2 linked regions of the Homo sapiens genome follow. The protein of the gene in region 2 interacts with the protein of the main gene of each other region in a pairwise test. Each region holds a gene or a part of one and is shown on either strand. Other genes may lie near its edges.

The links. The genes of interacting proteins can lie anywhere in the genome.
Region 1: the proteins of KIF5B (region 2) and PRKAR2B interact in binary tests that used the Homo sapiens proteins (3 or more experiments, as listed by UniProt).

What each region holds. Positions count from the first base shown.
Region 1 is NC_000007.14:107,145,696-107,152,723, forward strand, and holds part of PRKAR2B (cAMP-dependent protein kinase type II-beta regulatory subunit), read left to right. Parts: intron 1-612; coding exon 613-766; intron 767-5,226; coding exon 5,227-5,328; intron 5,329-7,028. UniProt on the Homo sapiens protein: Regulatory subunit of the cAMP-dependent protein kinases involved in cAMP signaling in cells. Type II regulatory chains mediate membrane association by binding to anchoring proteins, including the MAP2 kinase.
Region 2 is NC_000010.11:32,046,413-32,053,440, forward strand, and holds part of KIF5B (kinesin-1 heavy chain), read right to left. Parts: intron 4,112-7,028; exon of another isoform or gene 3,898-4,111; intron 2,140-3,897; coding exon 2,052-2,139; intron 1-2,051. UniProt on the Homo sapiens protein: Microtubule-dependent motor required for normal distribution of mitochondria and lysosomes. Can induce formation of neurite-like membrane protrusions in non-neuronal cells in a ZFYVE27-dependent manner.

The DNA.
Region 1 (7,028 bases), on a different chromosome or scaffold from region 2:
GATGTAAGTAAGCCACCACACCCAGCCTCTTCAGATGATTTTTTTTTTTTTTTTTTTTTTTGAGTTGGAGTTTTGCTCTTGTCACCCAGGCTGGAGTGCAGTGGCACAATCTCGGCTCACTGCAACCTCCGTCTCCCAGGTTCAAGTGATTCTCCTGCCTCAGCCTCCCGAGTAGCTGAGATTATGGGATCCCGCCATCACACCCGGCTAATATTTTGTATTTTTAATAGAGACAGGGTTTCACCATGTTGGCCAGGCTGGTCTCAAACTCCTAACCTCAGGTGATCCACCCGCCTCAGCCTCCCAAAGTGCTGTGATTACAGGTGTGAGACCCGGCCTCTCCAGATGGTTTTTTATGCATATACTATTTGGTTGTAGTCTTTAGTTATAGTTTTATCATTCCTTATTCCAAATTTTTATTGTTTAGTCCCATTTTTCCCAGCAGGCACATGGTCTGGAACAGATGGCACAGATTGATTCCCCTTTATTGTCATCGGAGGGGATAACAGGCTGGAAATAAGATTTTTATTTCACAGGGCTCTTTTCTGAAATAATGTTTTATTTTAATGATATTTTATTTGAATTAACCTCCAATCTACATATGTCCAACAGAGGCACATTTGATATTTATGTGAAATGTGATGGTGTTGGAAGATGTGTTGGTAACTATGATAATCGTGGGAGTTTCGGCGAACTGGCCTTAATGTACAATACACCCAGAGCAGCTACAATCACTGCTACCTCTCCTGGTGCTCTGTGGGGTTTGGTGAGTAAAATACTTATTTGACCTGAATGTTATGATTTGTAGCAATTGCTATGACGGTGTTACAAATTGCCGCATGTAGTATTTTAATTTAAAGATCATCAGTCATCAGGTAATTTATTAAGCAGCCACTGAATGCTGAACTGTAGGGCACTAAGACTTCACTAAGTCAGATCCTGATGTCATTGCCCCCACTCCTCCAGTCCAGTCAGGAGCTTGGGACCTGGTGGCCCAGGAAAGACACTCAGATTCAGAATGCTCCTGTCTTACCCACTCTTAGAAAATAACCAGCCATACAAACACAGCCTTAAGTACTTTTTCTCAGATAGCTTTCTGAGGTAAGTATTATAATCTGATAAAGTTGTGGCTCCCAGAGTGTGGTCCCCTGAACACTGGCAGCTGTATCACTTGGGAACTTTTTAGAAATGCCCATTCTGGGGCCCCACCCACTGATTCTGACCTACTGCATCAGAAATTCGGAGTTTGAGAAACCAGTATAAAAGGATGCTCTTGGTGCTATAAATTGATTGGTAACTACTCTGCATTTAAAAGCAGTTGTGTAGGGAAAAAATGCTTGGTGGCTGTGCTCATGTGCCCCACATCAGAATTACCTGGAGTATTTTTTTAAAATCCTCTTACCTAGCCACGAGGTCAGGAGATCGAGACCACGGTGAAACCCCGTCTCTACTAAAAATACAAAAAATTAGCCGGGCACGGTCGTGGGTGCCTGTAGTCCCAGCTACTCAGGAGGCTGAGGCAGGAGAATGGCATGAACCCGGGAGGCGGAGCTTGCAGTGAAGCTGAGATTGCACCACTGCACTCCAGCCTGGGCGACAGAGCGAGACTCTGTCTCAAAAAAAATCCTCTTACCTAGACCTCACCATGGGCAAATTGATCAGAATCTTCAGCACTGGGACCTGAGCATTAGTACTTTTAAATACATTTCTTAATGTGGTATTCCCGCAAGACTTAAAAGCTGGTTTAAAGATACATTCGGGCAATATTTTCACATATGATAGGATGCAAATTATTAGGCACTACTAAAGCTCCTTCTGGAGGATTGTATTTAAGGTAGTGATTCTCAAACTTTAATATGCTTACAAATCACCTGGGAATCCAGTTAAAATGCAGATTCTGATTCAGTGGTTCTGGGGTGAGGCCCGTGATTTTTGCATTTCTCATCAGCTCCCAGGAGATGGCAGTACTGCCTGATGTCAGGCCAAACCTTAAACAGCATCGATTTAGGGAAATGTTTACAGTATATGTATTTTCTTTTAAAATTGTTGAAAATAGCCCACCCACTAGTTTTGACATGCATTTATTGGGTTATTTCTCTCAAATCCTTTTGTGGAAAGAGAAGAGGTTGAAGTAAATATGAAGTCTGTTAAAAGTCTCATTTCCAAGGACTACTGTATATAGCATTGTGGAAGTCACACATTATTTAGTCACAGTTCAGCATTTGACTCTGAAGTCAATTCAGCTGATAAAAAATATCTCTTGATCAAAGAGACAAGACATTTTACATTTCTTTTAATTGGAACCAGTTATTATATACTTATTTAAAAATGTGATGAGTCACTTTTTTAAGGTTTAGAGGAAAAGCTGAATTGTCTCAGGAAAAGGAAAGAACTGTCAGTGATTTGAATACCCAAAGCCAGCAAAGAAAAAACTTCAAACCAGGACAGTCCTTCACCCACAGAAGTCTTTGTCTGCCTGTAATTAAAGTGGTGGGATAAATCTAGCATCTGCCATGACCTGTTTTATTCAGGAAGGTTTACTTTTCAAATGTAGTCATTCCAATGGGGTTGCCGTTCAGATTCAGATTGTCAGATTGTCACACAGTGAGGAAACTGCCTCCTTGCACATCTTCAGAATAAGATCAACTGTTTTATAGGTTGGCCTCTTTGAATACTGATAGTTTTTAGCCCTTGTAGAAACTTTAATGGGGTATAAAAGACCCAGAATTTCCTAGTGCACGTACTACTTAAGTTCCTAAGATAGGATTAAGCATTTTCAGAGCTTTTTAGTAGTCTATACATGTTATTAAATTTTATAAAAATGGGCAGTTTGTGATAATCCTCCTGACATATAATAGCTTTCTAAAAAAGTTAGAATAATTAACATAATTACTTAGTATTTCAAGCCTACTTTTTAAGGGTGACTTGACTAATTATAATAACTCCTTCTCAGGGAGAGTCGAGTAGAAAATAAATTTTTCTTTTAAGGTCAACAGACTGGAGGTCTGCCTTATAAATACAGGTGTGTAAAGATAAGCAAAAAAAGCCCAAGAGAAAAGTCCATTGCAGAATAGTCTCACTCTGTAAATAATATTTGGTCACTATTAGCCTTAGGGCTAACATGATCTACGTGACTATACTGATGATTTGGAAAGGTGATTTTTGAAATGGCTTCAGGATGAAAGTATTTGAAATTCTGGACTTTATATGTCACAGTGGGTGTGAAGAGGTAGGTTACTAATGGAAAATTCTTTCTGAGAGATATAACTGATTATGATTAGTTTCTAAATCATTAAGCTATTTTGAGTCTTCTCTGTTTTGCAATAACCGCTGTCCATACAATGGTGTTATACCTGATTTCCAAACCTGATTACATATCAGAATCACTTTGGGAGCATTTATGAATTATTGAGCCCTACATGCAGAGATCTTGAGTCATTAAGGTCTGGTGTCTCAGAAATCTTTTTTAATACTATAGCTTATTCTGATGCAGAGCCAGGCTTGGAAATAATTTCAATATTTGTGCTAATTATCTTGTAAAATTTTCTTTTAAAAAAAGTATTAGGAGTAAAACAAGTCCAAATTACAGCCAATACCAAATTGGGAAACAAGATGTTTAATTTCCTAGTGTCTTAGTCCTTTTGGGGTGCTATGACAGACTGTTATAGAATGGGTGGCTTAAGCAGCATACATTTATTTCTCATGGTCTGGACGCTGAGAAGTCCAAGATCAAGGCACCAGAAGATTCGGTGTCTGGTGAGGGCTTGTTTTCCTGTTTAACAGACAGCGTCTTCTACTTGTGTTCTCACATGGTGGAAGGGGCAAGGGAGCTCATTGGGATCTCTTTTATAAGGACATTAATCCCATTCATGAGGGCTCCAGCCTCATGACCTAACCATCTTCCAAAGGCTCCACCACCTAATACTATCCTGGGTGATTAGGATTTCAACAGAGGGATTTTAGAGTGATAGAAACATTCAGTTGCAGTCCATCACACCTAGAGACTTTCATCTATACTGGCATTTTTCTCCATTGCACTAGTTCATTTAAATTCAGCCTTATTATGTTGGCATAAGAAAGAATGAATAAGACCTAGTATTTGGTAGCACAATAGGGTGACCATAGTCAATAATAAAATTGTATATTTTAAAATAAATGTAATTGGATTTTTTGTAACTCAAAGGATAGATGCTTGAGGGGGCAGATACCCCATTCTCTATGATGTGCATATTTCATGTTGCATGCCTGTATCAGAACATCTCATGTACCCCATAAATATACACCTACTATGTACCCACAAAAATTAAAAATAAAAGTAAAAAAAAATTAAAATATTGGCATAGTAATTTATTAAATAATATATCCCAATTTTTACTTTATTAAAATGGTATAATTGTTTATTAATGAATGCCAATCTAACATAATTATTGAGGCTTTTATTAAAGAATTAAAATATTTTATGAGAAATTATTTAAAATAAAATTTTTAGGAAAATAATGTTTTGAGCTGTATCCTTAAAATTTTTACTAGTTCTTCAACCGAGTTCTGTATCTTTGAGGGCATGATAGTATAAACAGGAACATTTTAGACTGTGAACATGGTAAACACTGGAATTAGATCTTACTCAAAAACATAGTTGTAGTTTCTCTGTGCCTTCACATTAAATAAAAATTTTTTTTATGAGTACATATTATGTGTATATATTTACAGGGTACATAAGCTATTTCGATAACAGCATACAATATATAATGATCACATCAGGGTAAATGGAGTAGCCATCACTTTAAGCATTTATAATTTCTTTGGGCATCCCTCCACATTTTTGACAAGAAAATTTTGACATAATGTGGATATGAAAAAGAACGTAGAGTACATAACAGAGTAAAAGAACAGAGTGCTAGTATACATATTTAAAAATGCTGTGACAGCGCCTCCTTGTGGGCAGAACCCAACATATTGGTCAGATTTCTGTTATGTATAAAAAGTCAACAGATGCTTTCTTTAAAAAAAAAAAAAAAAAAAAAAAAGAAAACAGTATTTTATGTGGTTCTGTATTATATTTTGTGCTTGACGAAATAAAAATATGAAATGAGTTGCATTAAAAGTATAATGATGTTAATCTTTTATTTCAGAATCTTCAATCATTGTTTCTTGTAGGGAATAAAATAAAACTATTTGTATAGCTTTACCCCCATAAAATTTACCCTTTAACTGTTCTGCCTGTAGGACAGGGTAACCTTCAGGAGAATAATTGTGAAAAACAATGCCAAAAAGAGAAAAATGTATGAAAGCTTTATTGAGTCACTGCCATTCCTTAAATCTTTGGAGGTAAGTATATGTTTATGCTTTTATTTTATTTTGCTTTAAAAGTTTCTGTTTTGCTAGGAATATTTAGTTCTATAGAAAAATTTCTTTGAATAAAAAAAAATCTATCCATGTTTTTATTTGAAAAGATTAAATGGTAGTGCTAATTTTTATAACTCATTGTTTCTTCTGCTATCTATAATTTCATTTGTTTTGTTATTTGAAAGTAATACATTCCTACCCAGCATCTATAGCAAATTTATATGTGGTCTTTATCTGATAGCAGACTTAATATAATCACATAGATGTAGACAAGAGCCACTAGTTGTAACTTTACAGTGAGGCGTTCTCTAGATATAGAATGTCCTCTCTGGCCTCTTCCTCTCAGTCATCTTTGCTGTTTATTCCTCTTTTCTTCTCCTCTTAAAACTGGCATTCCAGGCCTCTGTCCTTGGCCTCTTCTCTTTTCAGGATACACTTATTCACTTGGTGAACATGTCGAATCCCATGGCCTTAAATACAGATGTCCCTTGACTTACTATGGGGTTACCTTACGAATAAACCCATTGTGAGTTGAAAATATCATAAATAGAAAATGTATTTAATACACCTAAACTATGGAACATTCGAGCTCAGCCTAGCCTACCTGAAACATGCTTAGGACACTCACATCAGCCTACAGCTGGGAACAGTCACCTGGCAGCACAGTGCACTGGAGAGCATGGGTTGTTCACCTCATTGTGGTGAGGCTGGCTGGGCGTTGTGGCTCTCTGCCTGGCGTTGTACTGCATATCGCTAGCCTGGGAGAAGATCGAAACTCAAAATTAGAAGTATAGTTTCTATCGCTTTCAAACAACTGTAAGGTTGAAAAATCATTAATCAAGCCACTGTAAGTCAGGGACCACCTGTACTGTCCATATATTGATGCTTCTTAAAATTGATATCACTGGGCAAGGCCCCTCCCTTGAAGGTCAGACTTACTTATCCAACTGCAAATGTAAGATTTCCTCTCAGATGTCTAATAGACATCTCAAACCTAGTATGTCCCAAATCTACTCCTTTTCTCTTTCCCCGCAGATGGCAACATATCCTTCCAGTGTCTCAGGCCAAAAACCTTCGAGTTAGCACTGACTCATATGAACCACCATCACCTCTTGCCTGGCTAATTGCAGAGTCATCTTTTAAAATCCCTGGTTGTGGCACTGCTCTATTTAAGCTCCTCCTCACATGGCCTCTAAGGCTCTGCACAGACTGTCCCATTCCCCCACCCATTTTCCCCAACCTCATTTCCTACTGCTCCACACTCATCATCTCTCTGTTGACACATCAGCTTCTTGCCACTCCTCAAACACACCTGTCCCACACCCACTTCGGGGTCTTTGTACTTGCCGTCTGTCTGGAATGTCTTCCTACACAGCTGCAGGGCTCCTTCATTTCTCAGCCCAGAGGTCTTCTCAATGAGACCAGCTCTTAGGTTTTTATCTTTGAAGGTAGAGACTTATGAGAGAGAGTAGGTTGTTGTTACCCTAAAAATTCAGCTTCATTTTCCATACTTCATCATTAAATTAAATGCTTTTCTATTTCACTGTCATATTTGAAGTATTTTGAGAGTAATTAAAGACAGGCATATATATGTACCCACAACATCTTATAAAATGGCAAGTGTCAAAACAGCAGTGCTTCTCCTTTTGAATGTCTCTGTTGGATTATCAGCTTACATCTGG
Region 2 (7,028 bases):
TTCCCCTTCATTTTATGAAGATGTCAGTACCCAGTTCACTCTCTCTCACCAATACCATTACTGTTGTAATAAAACAGTACTGGTGGTTTCAAAGTCTGTAGCAGATAATCCCACTAAAATAACCTGGCCTCTCAGCTCCTTGACCAAATTTTCTGCGATCTTATTCTTTCTTCATTTTTATTTTAAAAACAGAGATGGGGTCTCGCTGTTGCCCAGGCTGGTCTCAAACTCCTGGCCTCAAGCAATCCTCCCACCTCAGCCTCCCAAAGTGCTGGAATTACAGGTGTGACCCACCATGTCTGGCCTTATCCTTTCTTTACTACCTCGGAAGTCAACTCCATGACAACACCTTTACCTTTTCATTACTAACTGCATTGCTTCCATAATCTCAATTTCAAGTAGAGATACTAATCAACTTACGATGGGGTTACTTCCTGATAAATGTTCTGTAAGTTGAAAATACCCTAAGCTGAAAATGCATCAAACACATCTAACCTACCAAACACCATGGCTTAGCCTAGCCTACTTTAAATGTGCTCAGAACACGTACACTGATCTACAGTTCAGCAAAACCATCTAACACAAAGCCTATTTTATAATAAAGTGTTAAATATTTCATATGATTTATTGAATACTATACTGAAAGTGAAAAACAGAATGGTTGTACAGGTACTAGAAATATTTCTATTGAATATTTCTATTGAATGTGTATTGCTTTTGCACCATCGTAAAGTCGAACAATTTTAAGTTGTTCTAAGTCAGGGACTGTCTGTATTCACCTTCTATTACTCCGTCCAGTACCCTGATTCCAACAAATCTTTGACCCCACTGAGATCTACAACCCACTAATGTTACCACCTTTTTTCACTGCCCTTCAGCCTCCCTCATATCCTTCTTCCTGTAACTTAACCACCTTAGATCCCATGGTCCACCATTATAATCACTCCTTTGACTATATCCTCAATTCTCTTGTCCCCCACTTCCCTCTTTTGTACTCACCTAGCAAAACTCCAAATGGGCAAAAATTCAACTCTTTCAGCAGCTAACCTTGAGTGGGCCCTTAATACTGCCTGGCAATACTCTCACACTGCCTGAATCCATCCATTTCATGCCTTTTCCTAGAACCTCTTCCCCCTTCCTCATCTCCATGATGACTTTGCTCCCTGTATTAGACAATATGAAATTGATATAATGAGTACATACACATTTTCCCTCCCTCACCTCATCTATAAACCTTCTATAACTCCACTTTATCTCCTGTTACTAGGATGAGCATCTGTGCTCCTATGCTATCCTAATCCACCTATTTTTATACTGAATCCCAATTCTTTTAATGTGGTGAATGCCACAACACAGATTTTGCCTCAATCTAAGAAGCACTTTGTAACAACTACAGCTGTCAAAAAATGAAATAAATCATATCACAAAGTAACAGCCATTCCTTTGATTAAACAGATTTCTACAGTAACTGGAAGTAACTCCAGATAAACAATGAGCACTCTCTCAGCTTTAAAATTCAATGGTTTTAGAATATATAAAGTTATAAATATTCTTGTATAAGTTATAGTATTAACTGGAATGTACATACTTTTCTCACCCTTGGCAACCCTTGTTAAATTCCTCAAGGGATAGGTAAGTCTTTGGGGAAGGAATAACAATGGAATGGAAGAATGATAGACTGCCATTTTCCACTACTTTTTAGAAATGTGTCTAGCCCTTTTGTTTTCATTCTCATACTGTTCTCTTTCTAGAACTGCCACCTTGGAAACTCTCCTGGGAATATCTAACAGAAATGCATCTCTTAAGAATAAGTGTGTAACATAGTTCTCATAATAACCTTAATTAGGTACTGTATATAATTAGATCATGGAATTTGAGCAATAGAATATTTACTAATTGTGTTTGACCTTTTTATTATTTAAACAACTTTCTTCTGCAATTAACTTAGAAGAAAGGGGCATTAAAATGAAAAAAGGAAGCTGAGTAAGTAGAAAAGATCACAAACTTATTTACTTATTGCTGAGACAACTCAGCAGGTTGAATATATTTACCTTTAACAATCTTCTTTGCACAGTCATTATACACTTGCTCTTGAGATGTGCTTGACTGGAACACCCGATCAAATGCATAAGGCTTGGACTGAAAAACAAAAAAGTGTTTCAACTATACAAATTAAAGGTAAATGAACATTTCTAACCTTTACAGATGCCATCATATAATATATTTAATCCTCAAAATAGTATACCTAGTATGCATAATTTGGTATCATTGAATCTTTGAAGTAGAAGGGATCACCATGCACAAATCCATTAGAATAAACTCCAGGAAAACAAGAATGGTCTTTAGTCTTTGCTGCATTCCCAGGGCCCAGTAATTACAATTATAATTCCCAGTAATTATAATTAGCACTACTATGGCAGCCAAATATTGCTGAGTGATTTTTATTTTTTTAAATACCTATTTATTTATTTTTGAGACAGGGTCTCGGTTCTGTCACCCAGGCTGGAGTGCAGTGGCACAATCACTGCTTACTGCAGCCTCAACCTCCTGGGCTCAAGAAATCCTCCCACCTTAGCCTCCTGAGCAGCTGGGACTAGAGGCATGTGCCACCATGCTATGTTGCCCAGGCTTGTCTTGAACTTCTGGGCTCAAGAGATCCTCCTGCCTCAGCCTCCCCAAGTGCTCGGATTACAGGTGTGAACCACCATGCCTGTCCTGCAACAGCTTTTCAACCATTCTTTCATTTAACAAATACTTATGGAATGTGAGATGACATGCTAGAATGATAACCAAGAGATTCCCTCTCTGCTTTAGTGGAGCATAAATAATAGTGGGGCAGACATTAAAAAATTAAGTGACCAGAATTCTGACTCATGCAATTGAGTGCTATGAAAGTGCAATGAGAGAATATAGGAGGAGAACCTAAGTCTACGGGAAAGCAGAATATCACGGAAACACCCTTGGAGAAAGAATATTTAAGAACTGAAAAATACGCAGCAACTAACTCATCATCACTCTCCCCAGTATTAGTCATGAAGGGTGAAAAAGGTTTCGTGTAGGAAAGTAGTCTAGGCACTGGGAGGATACTTAAAGATCCTAAGGCAGAAAGAACAGTGTAGCATTCAAGAAACCAATGGAAGTTGTTAAGTTGAAGTACAAGGAGCAAGGATCAAATGCAAATATCAAAACGGTTAAAAAGACATCATCTTATTCTGAAAACAGCTTTGATCTTCTGGACCCCAGAAATGATACTGGGGACTCCATGGACCACTCTCAGAGAACCACTAATATAGTCTGAGAAGGAGCCAGGGGTATTGAACAAAAAAAAAAAATCAGTGGTGTCCATGCAAGTCAAAAAATAATAATTTTCAAGGAGGGAGTGATTATGTCAAATACAGTTGTGAGGCCAAGACAAAACTAAAAAGTACTCAATGACAAAGGTCAGATTGGAATGGATTGAAAAAGAATGGGAGGTAACCAAGTGGTGCAGAAAATCTGCTGTATGTCTAAGAAAGTTATTTTTTTTTTAAGACTTGTAAGACCTGAGGTAGTTTAAATGCTTGCAGGAACAATTTTAATAATCTAGGAGAAAGAGTAGGTATCCAAAAATAAGAGGCAAGGGGTTCTAGGTATTTGCAAGTATCTGCCTGCTCTCTAGTTTCTCCTAAAGGAAAGGAAGGAAGTTGGGCCCTAAAACACAAAACAATCATGACCCCAGAAAAAGCCCTTAACATTAGAAAACACTTCCTAAGTCTTAGCTGAAAAAGACCTACTACCCTCCACATCCCCACTTCAAAGTCTGAAATAAAAGTAACAATGAACCAGACACTCCTAAAGCCATTCCCAATTCCCCTTTCCCTTGCTACCTCCCAATAAATAGGCCGGAAAGCCAAATACCTGTTAGCCTAGTCTCCCTGCAACTAGTAGTCACATGACCAAGCTCTGAATAATATGAAGTGGCGGTCTGTTCGAGGTCTCTGAGAAGGGTGTTGTTATCCTGATAAAAAGGACCATCTCAGCTAAAACTGCCCTTTCTCCTTCCTGGAATGAATGCCTGGAGCTGTAGCATCCATCTTGCAAATACGACAAACAGGATGATGAAAAGCAACAGCTAAGGACGACAAAGTATAACAGAGTGAGGAACCGTGAAGGGCCTATATCCAGGCTTTTTGTTATGTGAGAAAAACATCCTCTTATTTATTTAAGCCACTATTAGCTGTTGGTTTTTCCTCTAAAGCTGAAAGCATTACTGACAGATACAAGAAGCTGATCTCACTTTGGCATCAATTTAAAATAGGCATCGATGTCTGATTATTCTTTAGTTGTGACATATGTGAACGTATCCTTTTCTCAGATGCTACTGAAACAATTAACATTCAATTCTACAGGTGTGACTAAAAGAAATCTATTATTTTACTGCTGACACAAGATATATTCATGGTGAACAATTCTGAAAACAAACGTTAAGTACAATCAAAATAACAATCGCCACCCAAAAACAAACCATACTAATAGTTTTTTCTATGCAAAAAGAAAGTAATTTTCCCTCATTTATCCAGCAGACATTCATTTAGTGACTATAAAGATATGAGATATTGTAGATGAGTAACACAATTTTAGAAATAATTAGTACAGACTGTAGGGTTCAAAGAGTAATAGAGGATAAGGCCAGATAAAAACCTGAATACTAAGTTAAGTTATACACTTGGATCTAATATAAGTGATCAAGTAATGTCAAGAGAATTTTATATGTATCTACAAATATACTCCTGAGTAGCTGGGACCACAGGCATGTGCCACCACGCCTGGCTAATTTTTGTATTTTTAGTAGAGATGAGGTTTTGCCATGTTGGCCAGGCTGGTCTCAAACTCCTGACCTCCAGTGATCCACCTGCCTCAGCCTCCCAAAGTGCTGGGATTACAGGCGTGATCCACCATGCCTGGCCTCAATTTTTACATCAATAGAAAATAGTGCCCCTAAACCATTTACCAAGAGATATGCCAGAAATAATGTAAACAGCTTCATAATAGTAAACAGTTTTAATAGTAAAGCCTGCCTTCAGAAGTACTTTATGAAGCTGCTTACTCTAGTTATCAACTCCAAGCAAATATATAAACTACCACTACAACCTTACTAAAATAATATAAATGGCAACTATTAAAAGGTAACACACAAACATAAAAATAATTGAGACTGGAGTGATTATCTTTCTAGAAGTTATTGTTAAATAAAAATTAAGTGCTTAGCATTAAGTTGACAAAACAGTCTTATCTTGATTGCAAAACCAAATGATGATTTTGTAATACTAAGTAAGGCAAATGTTTTAATTAAAGATCTAGCCATAAATTACTGACTCTGGCTTCCTGGAATGAAAATCAAGACTCTGTGAAACACAAAAATTATTTCTAATGGTCTATAATTAAGGCATATCTCTATTTTTCAAATAAATTAAAGAAAAACTCATCTGGACATCTGTATTTTTCAAACCTGGTTTTTAGCCTCGAAATGTACATTATGCAGCTTTTAATCCCATGTGTCTTCAAAGATCCCCCAAGTTTCAGATTTCAATATTACTAGTAACTCCAAGTCACAAGATGCATTCACGTCTGATTGATGCTTTAAGGGGACAAATCAAAAAGGAATAAGTTGATCTCAACTGCATACCTTAGGTTCCTTAAGGGAAGTGATTCCTGTTTGAGTATGCACCGACCAGACTGAAGACCAAATTTGGTTATGAAGGACACCCTTCTGGCAGGGATATGTCTTTCTCTGGAATTCTGAATAGCGGATCATTTCAGATCACTTGGGAGTGTATTATATTAGATTTTCCTTAGTTAAACACTATAGTGGGCTAACATTCCACAACTGTAAAGGTATGTGATGATGGTTCCCTCCTCTCCTTCATTTTTCCCTCTTAAGGTAATCAAGAAGGTTCAAACACCAAATCATTCACTTGAAAAGCGAGAATGTTGTTTTGCTTAGGCAAGGAACTGGGCAAGATTATCTAATTAGTTTTATTCTCTTCTAATTTCTCGGAACTACCACAGCTTGTTTTTGGCAGCCTTTACGGTGTACCATATAAGGAATAATGATTTGTAAAGATACTTAATGATGCAAATAACCATATTCTACTTTCATGATTCATAAATAGATAGATGTAATTTTTTTATTGATTTTTCTTCCTGGTGTTTTTAGCAAGCTCCTAATTTTTTCTACTGATTTTTTTCTGGTGTTTCCAGCAAGCTCATTTCAAAGACATAAACTGTTTCCCTGTCCTCCTTGCTTTGCGGTAACAAGTTCTCTAATTTAAAGCAAATAGTTTATATGTATATCGCTTAAAGACTTTCATAAAATAATTCATTTCATTCGATGTTACATTTATAGCACTTCACCAAGCACTTAATTAAAAATAAATTCTGTATTAAAGGCTGTACAGCATACACAGAAACACTATGAAAGATTTGCCTGCCATGGTGTCATATTAAAATCACTGATTACATGAGTAGCAGGAAAAAAGTTTAGACAAAGTATTAAAAACTCAAGTTATAAGAAAATCAGAATCCTTAAAAATTACTTTCTCCATGAGCACTGATTATGCTTCTAACATCATAAACTACAATATTCTTTCAATTTTGATCTAAATAGAAGATTGTATACAAAATGTTCTTAAATCATGTTTTTAAAAATTTAGTTTTAAATGCTGCATTGCAGCAATTCTCTCCTAAACTGTTCATTATGAATCAGGATTAGGAACCAGTAAAATGAAAAAACCAAACCGAGAAGATTTTACCCACAGATTTTCCAATTCCGCTCCTCCTGGCTGCTCTTATAACCTTTTACAAAATGAAATAATTCATTTAAAAAACTGAACAAAAATATGAGACCTCAATAATTAATGTCGTTACTATATGCAAGAAACTAGTTTCTGAAAACAATGAACCAAAACATGTTGCCTTTCATTTTTTAAGGCTATGTTATTCAGTTGTAATGTATTTTTGGTTACACGTTAAAAAAAAAAAAAAAAAAC